Linked DNA regions of Homo sapiens. The protein of the gene in region 4 interacts with the protein of the main gene of each other region in a pairwise test. Each region holds a gene or a part of one and is shown on either strand. Other genes may lie near its edges.

Region 1 (3,569 bases), on a different chromosome or scaffold from region 4:
TGCCTCAGCCTCCCAAAGCACTGGGATTCCAAGCAAGAGCCACTGTGTTGGGGCCCTTGGAAACAGATATGCTGAAATCTTTTCTTGTGGATCTACACCCAGAAGAGGGATTGCTGGGTCATATGCTACTCTATTTTTAATTTTTCTTTTATTTTTAGTGAATATGTAATAATTGTATATAATTGTGGGATCCAGAATTATATTTCCATACATGTATACAATGTGTGATAATCAAATTAGGGTAATTAACATATCCATTACCTGAAACATTTATCATTCCTTTGTGGTGGGAACAGTAAAAATTAAAAATTCTCTCTTCTAGATTTTTGAACATATGCAATAAACTATTGTTAAGTATATCACCCTACAGTACTACAGAATGCTAGAACTCATTCCTCATATTTGGCTCCAATTTCATATTCTTTAACCAACCTCTCCATATCCTCCCCTCCCTCTTACCGTTGTCAGCCTCTAATAATCATAATTCTACTCTCTACTTCTATCTCATTGTCTTTGATTTAGAATATGTTTCATAATTTAACCAAAGGTCAAATTCTTAGGTACTGCTAAGGCAAAGAACAAAGATCGCATTCCAGCTGTTAGACATTTCTTACTACTAGTCATTTTTAAGACAACATGGGGTGCAGGTGGTGAGGATGAGAGATAGAGATTGAAACATATTCTCTTAAATATCAGCTGTTCTCACTCTGCATAGTTCCAGCACAAACAAATTCCAGGTACTATGGTTAGTTAAATAACACCAGCCACTAACAACACAATTCAAATTTCTGTTACCACAGTATACCGAAAGTCATTGCATAAAGTACAAACTTTGCTGCTAACTCTTCAGCCTTCAAATCATTACATAAATAACAGAAACCCATTATAATCAGTGACAAAACCACAGCACTTCTTTCAAAGCTTTTTGGAGATTGGTTGCTTCACATCTGTTATGCAGTTCATACAGACAGCAATGCCCGGACTTGTGTGGCCACATTGTCTCCCAGTGGTGAGCCCATGTGATGTTTCACGAAAATGCGCAATCAAAAGAGGAAACTGGCCAGCAAAGATGAAAGAGTAGCAAACAAAGGAAGTGAAACATTCTGGAAGTAAAATTTGAATCAAACATAAGTTGATGTATACAGGAAGTAGCTACCCTGAGGATGTTGTCACTGCTGCAATTCAGGAGACTCTAAATATGCAGTCAGAGGAACGTAGTGAGGTGAAGGTATCCGTATAATGGGGAAAGAGGTTGTGATAAAGAGTGAAGGTGTCCCAGAGGAAGTGTTGCTGAAAAATACACCTTATGTTAAATACACTGTCAGTATATCATGACATTAAAGTGCAAATGATAACATTTTGTAAACTGATCCAAACTTAAAAAGGAGTATGATAATTCTGTAAAACATAAAAATCATGCCGATTCCATAAATTATACAGTGTGAATTACACTGAAAAATCCAACATTAGAGAGGATATGAATACAATTTTTTACAAGCATAATTTTAATAATACACATAATAATTATTTGTATTCAAGTTTAGTAATGTTCAAGGTTTGGAAGAAATTCTGATCCTGTGTAGAGACCCTAGTTTGAATGTGCTTATAGCCTATTATTACATGTGTAATGTTACATAAATTACTTAACTCGGATTTTTAATTTCATCAGCTATTTAAAATGGGCATAATATAACTATATTAAATGGCTGTTATGAAGATTAAATAAGATGATATGTAAAATGTGTTTTTTGTTTGTTTGTTTGTTTGTCTGTTTGTTTTTTTGAGACAGAGTCTTGCTCTGTTACCCAGGCTGGAGTGCAGTGGCACAATCTTGGCTCACTGCAAGTTCTGCCTCCCGAGTTCATGCCATTCTCCTGCCTCAGCCCCTCCCAAGTAGCTGGGACTACAGGCACCCGCCACCACGCCTGGCTAATTTTTTGTATTTTTGGTAGAGATGGGGTTTCACCATATTAGCCAGGATGGTCTCGATCTCCTGACCTCGTGATCTGCCCACCTCGGCCTCCCAAATTGCTGGGATTACAGGCATGAGCCACTGCGCCCAGCCTAAAATGTTTTTTTTACATAATGGGTGTTCAGCACATGTTAAAGCCTTCTCTCCATCCTTCTTCCCTTTTGTTTCATGGGTTGACTGATCTGTCTCTAGTGCTGTACTTTTAAAGCTTCTACAGTTCTGAATTCAAAATTATCTTCTCACTGGGCCCCGGTGTTATCTCATTCTTTTTTCTCCTCTGTAAGTTGACATGTGATGTGGGAACAAAGGGGATAAAGTCATTATTTTGTGCTAAAATCGTAATTGGAGAGGACCTCCTGTTAGCTGGGCTTTCTTCTATTTATTGTGGTGGTTACTGGAGTTCCTTCTTCTAGTTTTAGGATATATATATATATTTTTTTCTTTCCCTGAAGATATAATAATATATATACTTCTGAAGATTGAGATTTTTAAATTAGTTGTATTGAAAACTAGCTAATCAGCAATTTAAGGCTAGCTTGAGACTTATGTCTTGAATTTGTTTTTGTAGGCTCCAAAACCAAGGAGGGAGTGGTGCATGGTGTGGCAACAGGTAAGCTCCATTGTGCTTATATCCAAAGATGATATTTAAAGTATCTAGTGATTAGTGTGGCCCAGTATTCAAGATTCCTATGAAATTGTAAAACAATCACTGAGCATTCTAAGAACATATCAGTCTTATTGAAACTGAATTCTTTATAAAGTATTTTTAAATAGGTAAATATTGATTATAAATAAAAAATATACTTGCCAAGAATAATGAGGGCTTTGAATTGATAAGCTATGTTTAATTTATAGTAAGTGGGCATTTAAATATTCTGACCAAAAATGTATTGACAAACTGCTGACAAAAATAAAATGTGAATATTGCCATAATTTTAAAAAAAGTAAAATTTCTGTTGATTACAGTAAAATATTTTGACCTTAAATTATGTTGATTACAATATTCCTTTGATAATTCAGAGTGCATTTCAGGAAACACCCTTGGACAGTCAGTAAAATGTTTATTGTATTTATCTTTGTATTGTTATGGTATAGCTATTTGTACAAATATTATTGTGCAATTATTACATTTCTGATTATATTATTCATTTGGCCTAAATTTACCGAGAATTTGAACAAGTCAATTAGGTTTACAATCAAGAAATATCAAAAATGATGAAAAGGATGATAATCATCATCAGATGTTGAGGAAGATGAGGATGAGAGTGCCAGAAATAGAGAAATCAAAGGAGAACCAAAATTTAACAAATTAAAAGCCCACAGACTTGCTGTAATTAAGTTTTCTGTTGTAAGTACTCCACGTTTCCTGGCAGATGTGGTGAAGCAAAAGATATAATCAGAAATATAATTTATATAATCGGAAAGCATTAAACACAATAGTGCCTATACAAATAAAATGTTCCTATCACTGACTTCTAAAATGGAAATGAGGACAATGATATGGGAATCTTAATACAGTGTTGTGGATATGACTAAAAACACAGGAGTCAGATCTTCTTGGTTCAACTTCCTGCTTACTCCTTACCAGCTGTGTGTT
Region 2 (3,569 bases), on a different chromosome or scaffold from region 4:
CTCTGTGTCTGTGGCCGGTGGTTGTCCTTCATTACAGGGATGGTGGTGTTTTTCCATGTTGCTAAGCAGCATGTGAGGGCCTCTGTTGAATAAAATAAAGCCCTTGCTCCGGCGTGACACGGGTCACGGGATCTCTGCTCACTCTAGTCTCTTCTGATGCCCCCACCGCACTGTTTGCCTTAGTTTGCTTTTTACTCTCTGTGTTGGTTTCTGGGGCATCAGTCCTCTGACTTCGGTGCTGTGGCTTGGGCCTGGGGTGGGGGCTGTGGAGCGGCAGATCTGGGTATGAATCCCAGCTCCACCCATTTGGCTCCCTCTCTTCTCTCCCCTGCCCTCTTCTCCCCTCCCCAGCTCCCTTCCCCTCTCATATTTACTTAACTTTACTCAGTACCAGCGTATTAGTTTTCTAGGGCTTCCGTAAGAAACTACTGGAAACTTGGTGGCTTAAAACAACAGAGGTTTGTTCTCTGATGGTTCTGGAGGCAGAAGTCTGAAGTCAAGGTGTGGGCAGGGTGGGTCCCTCCTGGAGGCTCTGAGGGAGGCTCAGTTCCTCGCCTCTGTCCAGCTTCTGGCAGTGGCCAGTGGTCCTCCTGCTCCTTGGCCACTGTCACCCGTCTCCGCATGGCTCTGTTACACTTCTCTTCCTATAGGCCATCAGCTCTTGGAGCCAGGGCTTCCCTACTCCAGGCTGATCTCATTTCAAGATCCTTAAATACATCTTCAAAGACCTGTTTTTCCAAATAAGGGCACATTCACAGACATTGGTGGGCACATGATGTGGGGCCCAATTCAGCCCCCTGCAGCCAGGCTCCACATGGGTGGGCTCTGGGTGTTGCTATCATCATCCCCGTTTCTTGGATGAGGGAAGGCCAGGGTTGTGTGGCTCATGCCCAGTGAGGCAGGGACTCCAGGCCTCGGCATGTGCAGGTCTGAGATTGTAAGTGCCATGCCATCTGTAGAGTCACGTGGGTGAGTGTCCTCCCATGGTTTCCTCCCTGGAAGCGGTGCTGGCCCATGGGGACTGTACTGAGTGTCAGCGAGATCCTGTATGGAGTGTCTGGCAGCTCCCACCTGCCTCCCTCTGCTTTTCTGTCTCCAGCAGACACTAAGTGCCAGAGCGGGCTCTGCCGGTGCTGGATGTGCCTGACCTTGACTTTTCTTCCAGGCAGGATGGACTCCAACACTGCTCCGCTGGGCCCCTCCTGCCCACAGCCCCCGCCAGCACCGCAGCCCCAGGCGCGTTCCCGACTCAATGCCACAGCCTCGTTGGAGCAGGAGAGGAGCGAAAGGCCCCGAGCACCCGGACCCCAGGCTGGCCCTGGCCCTGGTGTTAGAGACGCAGCGGCCCCCGCTGAACCCCAGGCCCAGCATACCAGGAGCCGGGAAAGAGCAGACGGCACCGGTAAGGGAGCAGGCTGGGAAGCCCAGGCTGGGGATGTTCAGGGATAGCTGGGTGGGAACGGGGTTCAGCCACCCCTGGAGGGTCCCCCCGCCAGGTCCTCTGCAGTTCAGCATTGTGCAGCTCCCATGCTGTGCACAGGCGTCCATCCAGTGGGGCTACCCACCTCCTCAGAGCCTTGCACCTGTCACCTTTGTGGCACCCACTCGAGGTGGTGCTGGTGCCCCCACTCCTCTGCAGTCCTTCTCTTCCCAGGGCCTCTGCAGCACTTCACAGCTTCCATTTGCAACAGCGTCCAAACATGTGGAGTAAATTCACGGGCCCTCTGTAACCAACTAGGGTGGCAGGCCAGAGGTGACAGCCACACTCTCGGGAGTGAGGCCACATGCGGGCGAAGCCCTTGGTGCTGAGTTTCCCCTCTCCCTGAGGGAGACTTGTGAGGGACGGGCGTCCTTCACCTCCATCCTGAGGCGGGATGCTGGGGCCCTGGGTGTTCACAGGCAGAGCTGACTGAGGCCCTTGGTCTTCACAGGCCGAGCTGACTGAGGCCCTGGGTGTTCAAAGCAGAGCTGAGGCCCTTGGTGTTCACAGGCAGAGCTGACAGGCTTGTTGGTTCCTGGGTGGTGATGTGAGGGTGGTGGGTGTGAGCCAGGGGAGTCCGGCCCCTGGGCACCTTCTCCAGCTGACTCAGGCCTCGGTCAGCCTTCACTTTTGCTAGAGAGGCCGCTGCCAGGGAGGCTCAGTCCCAGCTCATCACTGCCCCTCCTGCCCATGCAGAAGCCCCAGACCCATGGTGAGTGCCTGCTGTGTACACCAGCCTTTTCCATGTGCCTGCAGGACTCCTCATGGCAGTCCTGAGAGGGGAAACTGAGACACCGAGTCTAGGTGACTTGCCCAAGAGACCCAGCGGGTGAGAGACGAGGTGCTCGAGTGGTCCAGGTTTCCTTCTTGTCCCAGTCACCCCACTGGCAGGGCCGTGGGGCCTCCCTGCTGTGGTCGCAGCGCGCTGAGGCTCCCATGTACCACTTATGCTGGGCGTGCCCTTGGAAACTCACTGCAGCCCTGGGCCCTGTTTGTCTTTGCATCTCCTTAAAAGATCACTGTGCTCCTCTGCTTTGTTTTGGAGGCCTCTGGGCGGATGAGGGCCTGACCCCGGGATTTGGGCCCAGCCTCACGGCTTCAGGGGAACAGATACCAGGGCTCGGAAGCTTGGTTTCAATCTGGGTAATGAGAACAGCCCGCAAAGGACAGAGTCCAAGACTGTGTGTTTCAGATAAGAAGAGTCAGGAAGCAGCTGTGGTTTGTTTGGCTTCGGTCTCCAATGTGGGGGTGGTGAAGAGCAAGCCCTGGGCGCCGCCTGACAGCCCAGTCCCCACCACTGGGCCTGCAGCTGGGGGCAGTGGGCATCCCGTCTCCCAGTCACTGGTCACTGATGTGGCCAAAGCAGGCCTGGCCCTGCATGCCCAGTGGCCGCAGGGAGGGCAGGGCCCAGGGTCCCTGCCAGTAGCAGCTGCTGCGAGAATCTGTTATTTAGCTCCCCCATCCAGCCAACATAGGTGGGTGAGCATCAGTTGAAATACCAATAGGTAACAACAAGGGTAGCTATTTAACTGACACTTCCCCGAGCTAGGCATCTTTTTAGGGCATTAGCCCACTTGCCTCTTTAACAGCCCTGGGAGGCAGGCTCTGCTGCTGCCCTGTTTTTCAGATGGGAAACCGAGGGATAGAGGGCTTAAGTAGATGACCCAGCGTCCCGTGGTTGGTGAAGGGTGGAGGGGAGATTTAAACATACCGTGGAGCCTGTGCTCACTATGGGCCTCAGGTCATCTGCGCCCAGGGATCCCCATGTCCCAGGCTCAGAGAAGTGCACAGAGCAGGTTGGCCTGTCCCTAGATCAGTGCCTGGCCAGGCCCTGGTGACAGGAGTGAAGGCTCAGTCCTGCCCTCCGGGAGCCCTGAGCAATATGGGAGACAGGAGTGAACAAGGAACTACATTCTGGGGCTCATGTAGCGCGGGGGACAACCCACATTGCAGTCCCCTAGGGGCACCCCAGGAGGGCCTGGTCACTCTTCAGGGCATCAGGAAGACTGCCTGGAGGAGGCATCGTCGGAGCCCCATCTGAGCTGCTCCTTGGCCTGTACACTTGGGAAACAGGAGAAGAGCAGCCTTG
Region 3 (3,569 bases), on a different chromosome or scaffold from region 4:
CGAATTTTATCCTTATAGCTACTTTCACAAGTAGGCATTTTCACCCTAATTTTACACATGAGGAAAGTGAGGGCCACAAAGGTCCAGTAACATACCTAGGTGACACACCAAGTCAAGCACAGAGCTAGGACTTTGACTCCAATCTGCTTGACTTTTATTTTATTTTCGAGACAGAGTTTCACTCTTTTTGCCCAGGCTGGAGTGCAATGGCGCAATCTCAGCTCACTGTAACCTCCGCCTCTGGAGTTCAAGTGATTCTCCTGCCTCAGCCTCCCGAGTAGCTGGGATTACAGGCGACTGCCACCATGCCCAGCTAATTTTGTATTTTTAGTAGAGAAAGGGTTTCACCATGTTGGCCAGGCTGGTTTGGAACTCCTGACCTTAAGTGATCCGTTCACCTTGGCCTCCCAAAGTGCTGGGATTACAGGCATGAGCCACCACGCCTGGCTTAATCTGCTTGATTTTATTTTTATTTACTTATTTTATTTTAGGTATTATTATTATTATTATTTTTAGACGGAGTCTCGCTCTGTCGCCCAGGCTGGAGTGCAGCGGCCCGATCTTGGCTCACTGCAAGCTCTGCCTCCCAGGTAAACAATTCTGCCTCAGCCTCCCGAGTAGCTGGGACTACAGGCGCCTGCCACCACGCCCGGCTAAGTTTTTTGTATTTTTAGTAGAAATGGGGTTTCACCGTGTTAGCCAGGATGGTCCCGATCTCCTGACCTCGTGATCCACCCACTTTGGCCTCCCAAAGTACTGGGATTACAGGCGTGAGCCACCGCGCCTGGCCTATTTATTTATTTTTGGATGGAGTTTTGCTCTTGTTGCCCAGGCTGGAATGCAATAGCGCAATCTCAGCTCACTGCAACCTCCGCCTCCCGGGTTCAAGCGATTCTCCTGTCTCAGCCTCCCAAGTAGCTGGGATTACAGGCACATGCCACCACACCTGGCTAATTTTTGTATTTTTAGTAGAGACAGGGTTTCATTATATTGGTCAGGCTGGTCTCGAACTCCTGATCGCAGGTGATCCGCCCGCCTCGGCCTCTTAAAGTGCTATGATTGCAGGTGTGAGCCACCGCCCGGCCTGCTTGACTTTAAAACTAAGTGGAGTAACGCTTTGGGAGGCTGAGGTGTCAGGGGCGTTTGAACCAGAGCAACTCCATCTTGAATAGGGGCTGGGTAAAATGAGGCTGAGACCTACTGGGCTGCATTCCCAGATGGTTAAGGCATTCTAAGTCATAGGATGAGATAGGAGGTCGGCACAAGATACAGGTCATACAGACCTTGCTGATAAAACAGGTTGCAGTAAGGAAGCCGGCCAAAACCCACCAAAACCAAGACGCCAATGAGAGCGACCTCTGGTGGTCCTCACTGCTACACTCCCATTAGCTCCATGACAGTTTACTAATGCCATGGCAATGTCAGCAAGTGACCGTATATGTTCTAAAAAGGGAAGGCATGAATAATCTACCTCTTGTTTAGCATATCATCAAGAAATAACCACAAAAATGGGCAACCAGGCTGGACCCGGTAGCTCACACCTATAATCCCAGCACTTTGGGAGGCCAAGGAGAGTGGATCACCTGAGTTCAGGAGTTTGAGACCAGCCTGGCCAACATGGTGAAACCCTGTCTCTATTAAAAATACAAAAATTAGCCAGTCATGGTGGCGGATGCCTGTAATCCCAGATACTTGGGAGGCTGTGGCAGGAGAATCGCTTGAATCTGGGAGGCGGAGGTTGTAGTGAGCTGAGATCGCGCCATTGCATTCCAGCCTGGGCGACAAGAGCGAAACTCCATCTAAAAAAAAAAAAAAAAAAAAAAGAGGGCAACCAGCAGCCCTAGGGGCTGCTCTGTCTATGGAGTGGCCATTGTCTTATTCCTTTACTTTCCTAATAAACTTGCTTTCACTTTACTCTATGGACTAGCCCTGAATTCTTTCTTGCGCGAGATCCAATAACCCTGTCTTGGGGTCTGTGTCAAGACCTCTTTCCTCTAACAGAGGCAGGAGGATGGCTTGAGCCCAGGAATTCAAAACAAGCCTGGGCAACACAGTGAGATCTTGTCTCTTTTTAATATTGTATGTTTGTTTTTGAGACAAGGTCTCACTCTATCACCCAGGCTGGAGTGCCGTGGTGCAATCATGGCTCACTGCAGCCTCAACCTCCCGGGCTCAAGTGATCCTCCCACCTCAGCCTCCCGAGTAGCTGGGACTACAGGCATGCCACCATGCCCAGCTAATTTTTTGTAGAGACAAGGGTCTCACTATGTTACACAGCTCAGGCTGGTCTCAAATTCCTGGACTCAAACAATCCCCCTGCCTCGCTCTTCTAAAGTATTATTAGTACTACTACTACTAATAAATATTATTATTAGTACTACTACTACTAATAAATATTATTATTAGTAGTATCCTCCCAAAGGATTACAAGTGTGAGTCACTGTGCCCTGCCTGAGACCCTGTCTCTATGTAAAAATAAAAAATTAGGTTCGGGCGCAGGGGCTCACGCCTGTAATCCCAGCATTTGGGAGGCCAAGGTGGGTGGATCACCTGAGGTCAGGAGTTCCAGACCAGCCTGGCCAACATGGTGAAGCCCCGTCTCTACTAAAAATACAAAAAATTAGCTGGACATGGTGGTAGGCGCCTATAATCCCAGCTACTCTGGAGGCTGAGGCAGGAGAATTGCTTGAACCTGCGAGGCAGAGGTTACAGTGAGCCGAGATCGTGCCATTGCACTCCAGCCTGGGCAACAAGAGCAAAACTCCATCTCAAAATAAATAAATAAACAAATAAATAAATAAATAAAATAAAATAATTAGCTGGTCATGGTGGCACATGCCTGTAGTTCCAGCTACTTGGGAGATTGAGGTGGTAGGGATCACTTGAGCCCAGGAGTTCAAGGCTGCTGCAGTGAATCACAATCATACCAGTGCATTCCAGCCTGCGCGACAGAGATCCCCACATCTCTTAAAAAATAAATAAATGGAGCTGGGCGCAGTGGCTCACACCTGTAATTCCAGCACTCTGGGAGGCCAAGGTGGACGGATCACATGAGGCCAGGAGTCAAAAAAAAACCAAAAAACAAAAAAGCTGGGTGTGGTGGCACATGCCTGTAATCCCAGGTACTTGGAAGGCTGAGGCATAAGAACAGCTTGAACCCGGGAGGCTGAGGTTGCTGTGAGCCAAGACTGCACCACTGCACTCCAGCCTGGGCGACAGAGCGAGACTCCATCTCAAAATATGATAGATAGATAGATAGATAGATAGATAGATAGATAGATAGGGCTGAGTGCGGTGGCTCACATCTATAATCTTAGTGTTCTGCGAGGCTAAGATGGGAGGATCACTTGAGCTCGGGAGATCAAGGCTGCAGTAAGTTGTGTTTGTGCCACTGCACTCCAGCCTGGGCAACAGAGTGAGATCCTGTTTCTAAATAAATAAAGAAATAAGTAAACAAAAGATAAGTGGAGTAAGAGGCTGACACTGAGACCCTGTCCTAAGCCCCCATCTCTCACATATCTACTCCCTCCCCTGTTTGATACCTTCTGGCGTTTGTAAATGGTGGGCAG
Region 4 (3,569 bases):
CACAGATAGTGGCTACTATAGTAGACAGTGCAGCATTAGGGTTTTAAAATTTGTAATGTATTCTAGTACTTAAATTTGAAATATAGCTTTGTGAATGGTTCTCATCCTGGTTGGAAGCTTACTGTAGTATTTTTAGCAGTTGTGAGAAAAGTAACAAGAAATTTGTTGTGGTACCTAAGTTTGCTGTGTTTGTTCATATAATTTGAACAGTTTTGAGGTAAACACAATTACACTACTCTCCCCATATCACTCAATATTTCTTTTTTATGGTTGTCATCACTGCTTTTTTGTTGTTGTTGTTATGGATCAGCATTTTCTTGAATAAAAGAAAAGGGGTAGAATTACAGTCAATTTTACAAATTCCATTAGAAATTTTATAAATTTTTAAACTAAAAAAAAAAAAAACCAAACTGTAGTTCTAGTTTCCAGTGTTCTTATCTGTTAAAGGTGAGAGATGAGCAGAACTGATTTGGGTTTCTTTTTCAGTTGTGAACTGTACAGCCCTGGAATCCCCTGAGCATGGAAGCCTGGTTTGCAGTCACCCACTGGGAAACTTCAGCTACAATTCTTCCTGCTCTATCAGCTGTGATAGGGGTTACCTGCCAAGCAGCATGGAGACCATGCAGTGTATGTCCTCTGGAGAATGGAGTGCTCCTATTCCAGCCTGCAATGGTAAATCCCTCTGAGAATGCACAGAACGTTCTGTAACTCATCCCTCATTGCTTCTGTTTTTTGATTCAACTTACATTTTCAAAACTTCAGGGAAAGTTTTTTTTTTGTTTTTGTTTTTAATACAATTTGTTCTCTCAGCCAATGTATATTGCCAACCCAGTACCTGCTTGGGTTGAGAGAGGTTTTTTTATTCTATGCTTGAAATGGGTGTTTCTGAGGCTCTGGTGATTTGTAAGGGAGACCATAAAACAATAAAGCTCTAGAAATCTCAATGGATTTCTCATCTTGTTTCCCTGTTTAACTTTTCCAAGCCATGGGACTAACTTAAGACCATGATAGTCAAGCAGTCTTAGTATCTCTTTTTCTCTCTTAATTTTATCTTTCTGAACCAGAGGCCAAAAAAAGAAAAATCAGTTCTTCAGGCTCTGATGGGCTAAAATAAATGAATAGCCTACGTATGTCAGTACTAGTCATAACTCCTAATCTGGAATCTATTTTTTTTAAATTTTTACCTCACGTAAATGATAACATAGATTAGAGACCACTCAGCATAGGCAAAGTGGAAATCAGAAAAGATAGAATATCCATGAAAAAGAATAAAAGCTTTTATTCTGGCTGTGCATGTCCCTAAGAATTGACATAGGACTTTGGGATCTACCCTTTGAAGGCAGCTTCCTCACTCTGTTAGGCACCCAGCTCAATAGGAAGTGAAAAGATCATTCTTCTGTAAAATTCATGGTGCTCTTTAAAATCCTCAGTGGTTGAGTGTGATGCTGTGACAAATCCAGCCAATGGGTTCGTGGAATGTTTCCAAAACCCTGGAAGCTTCCCATGGAACACAACCTGTACATTTGACTGTGAAGAAGGATTTGAACTAATGGGAGCCCAGAGCCTTCAGTGTACCTCATCTGGGAATTGGGACAACGAGAAGCCAACGTGTAAAGGTAGAGTTGTTCCACATGGAGACTTACTGTGAACATTCTTTCTCTCAACCCATACTGGAAATGGGCAAGCTAATTCTAGGCCGTGCTAATATCAATGCGTATATTTGTTACAGCTGTGACATGCAGGGCCGTCCGCCAGCCTCAGAATGGCTCTGTGAGGTGCAGCCATTCCCCTGCTGGAGAGTTCACCTTCAAATCATCCTGCAACTTCACCTGTGAGGAAGGCTTCATGTTGCAGGGACCAGCCCAGGTTGAATGCACCACTCAAGGGCAGTGGACACAGCAAATCCCAGTTTGTGAAGGTAAGCTTGAGATCCTTCGATTTATACTTTCTTAAAGAACAACCATCTTCAAACTTGGACAGTGAAAAAAAAAACCAATACCCACTTTAACTATAGAAATCAGATTTGATGAGCAACCCTCGTATCTTTGAGATTCATTTAAAAGAACTAATGTTTGGCCAGGGAAAGGATCATATGTGTTAAGAATGAATTCTTTGCTGTTTTTTTTTAACTGTGATGTGCTGATAAAACTTTGTAGACATTAGCATGGAATAGACAGAATTCTTAATCTAAAGGAATCATATTAGAAAATTCGGAAAGCAGAATAATGAGAACATGATTTGAATGTAAAACTCTCATCACACCTGTCTTCTGAAATGGCTCATAATTAGCAGTGATGAGACTGTTTCAAGCATGGTGTCAGCTACAGAGATAGTATTGATGCATATATAAGCAGTAAATTTTAATTCACTTTAAAGTGAGAGCAAGGATATTGAAAACAAGCAGTTTTTACTATCAGGCACTGGCCTTGTCCTAGCCAAAGCCAGCACAGAATGATTTCCAGTAGCAAAACATAACACAAAAACCAAACTGCAAAACAGACAAATTTTATAGGGGTGCTTTCTTTTCTTTCTTTTTGGCACCATCTATAAACATCCATGACCCATATGTTGTCCTCAGACTGCGTGAAATCTTTCCTTGGACCATAATTTATTTTGTGTGTTAGAAGAACAGTGCTCAGGAACTAATGTTCTGATTAATTAGTCTTTTAATTAGTGCCATGATCAGTGAGGGGGCTGAAATTCAAAGAAAACACAGCCATCTTCCCATTTGTCCAGGGAATTATAAAGAATCTTCAGTTCTCCAAGTGTTGCTTGAATGAACTGGGTTCACTCAACAAACGCCAAGTACTCTCTAGTTCCACTGCAATATTTTCTGACCATCATTTTGATGTCTCAGCTTTCCAGTGCACAGCCTTGTCCAACCCCGAGCGAGGCTACATGAATTGTCTTCCTAGTGCTTCTGGCAGTTTCCGTTATGGGTCCAGCTGTGAGTTCTCCTGTGAGCAGGGTTTTGTGTTGAAGGGATCCAAAAGGCTCCAATGTGGCCCCACAGGGGAGTGGGACAACGAGAAGCCCACATGTGAAGGTACAGTCTTTGTTTTTATTTTATTTTAAGATAAAAAGAACTATTGAAGAGCTTGGGAACTTGGTTACCTTGGGAAACGTATTGCTGGAGATGCAAACAAACTTCTAAAGTGCTCTCTCGTGTGTTCCAGCTGTGAGATGCGATGCTGTCCACCAGCCCCCGAAGGGTTTGGTGAGGTGTGCTCATTCCCCTATTGGAGAATTCACCTACAAGTCCTCTTGTGCCTTCAGCTGTGAGGAGGGATTTGAATTACATGGATCAACTCAACTTGAGTGCACATCTCAGGGACAATGGACAGAAGAGGTTCCTTCCTGCCAAGGTAGAATTGAGTGCAGACTTTTTTAGGGTACAGGTCAAATACTTCATAAAGTTTCTGAACCTAGATTGCCCCAAAGGGGTTTGGTCCTAATTTCCTACATGCTGAAAACTAAGTAGCGCTTACACTTTACATTCATTGTTGACTTTTAAGCAAGTTTTGGAAGTTTTCCAGTAGATTTTTCTGAAACTCTGCCTGTGTACCTAA

The links.
Region 1: the proteins of SELE (region 4) and SNCA interact in a two-hybrid assay, tested with the Homo sapiens proteins (one large-scale study listed by BioGRID).
Region 2: the proteins of SELE (region 4) and WFS1 interact in binary tests that used the Homo sapiens proteins (3 or more experiments, as listed by UniProt).
Region 3: the proteins of SELE (region 4) and TRIM54 interact in a two-hybrid assay, tested with the Homo sapiens proteins (one large-scale study listed by BioGRID and IntAct).

What each region holds. Positions count from the first base shown.
Region 1 is NC_000004.12:89,827,156-89,830,724, reverse strand, and holds part of SNCA (alpha-synuclein), read left to right. Parts: intron 1-2,540; coding exon 2,541-2,582; intron 2,583-3,569. UniProt on the Homo sapiens protein: Neuronal protein that plays several roles in synaptic activity such as regulation of synaptic vesicle trafficking and subsequent neurotransmitter release.
Region 2 is NC_000004.12:6,276,286-6,279,854, forward strand, and holds part of WFS1 (wolframin), read left to right. Parts: intron 1-1,165; 5' UTR 1,166-1,170; coding exon 1,171-1,402; intron 1,403-3,569. UniProt on the Homo sapiens protein: Participates in the regulation of cellular Ca(2+) homeostasis, at least partly, by modulating the filling state of the endoplasmic reticulum Ca(2+) store.
Region 3 is NC_000002.12:27,299,390-27,302,958, reverse strand, and holds part of TRIM54 (tripartite motif-containing protein 54), read right to left. Parts: coding exon 3,543-3,569; intron 3,430-3,542; coding exon of another isoform or gene 3,304-3,429; intron 1-3,303. UniProt on the Homo sapiens protein: May bind and stabilize microtubules during myotubes formation.
Region 4 is NC_000001.11:169,727,535-169,731,103, reverse strand, and holds part of SELE (E-selectin precursor), read left to right. Parts: intron 1-486; coding exon 487-672; intron 673-1,430; coding exon 1,431-1,616; intron 1,617-1,729; coding exon 1,730-1,918; intron 1,919-2,857; coding exon 2,858-3,046; intron 3,047-3,176; coding exon 3,177-3,365; intron 3,366-3,569. UniProt on the Homo sapiens protein: Cell-surface glycoprotein having a role in immunoadhesion. Mediates in the adhesion of blood neutrophils in cytokine-activated endothelium through interaction with SELPLG/PSGL1. May have a role in capillary morphogenesis.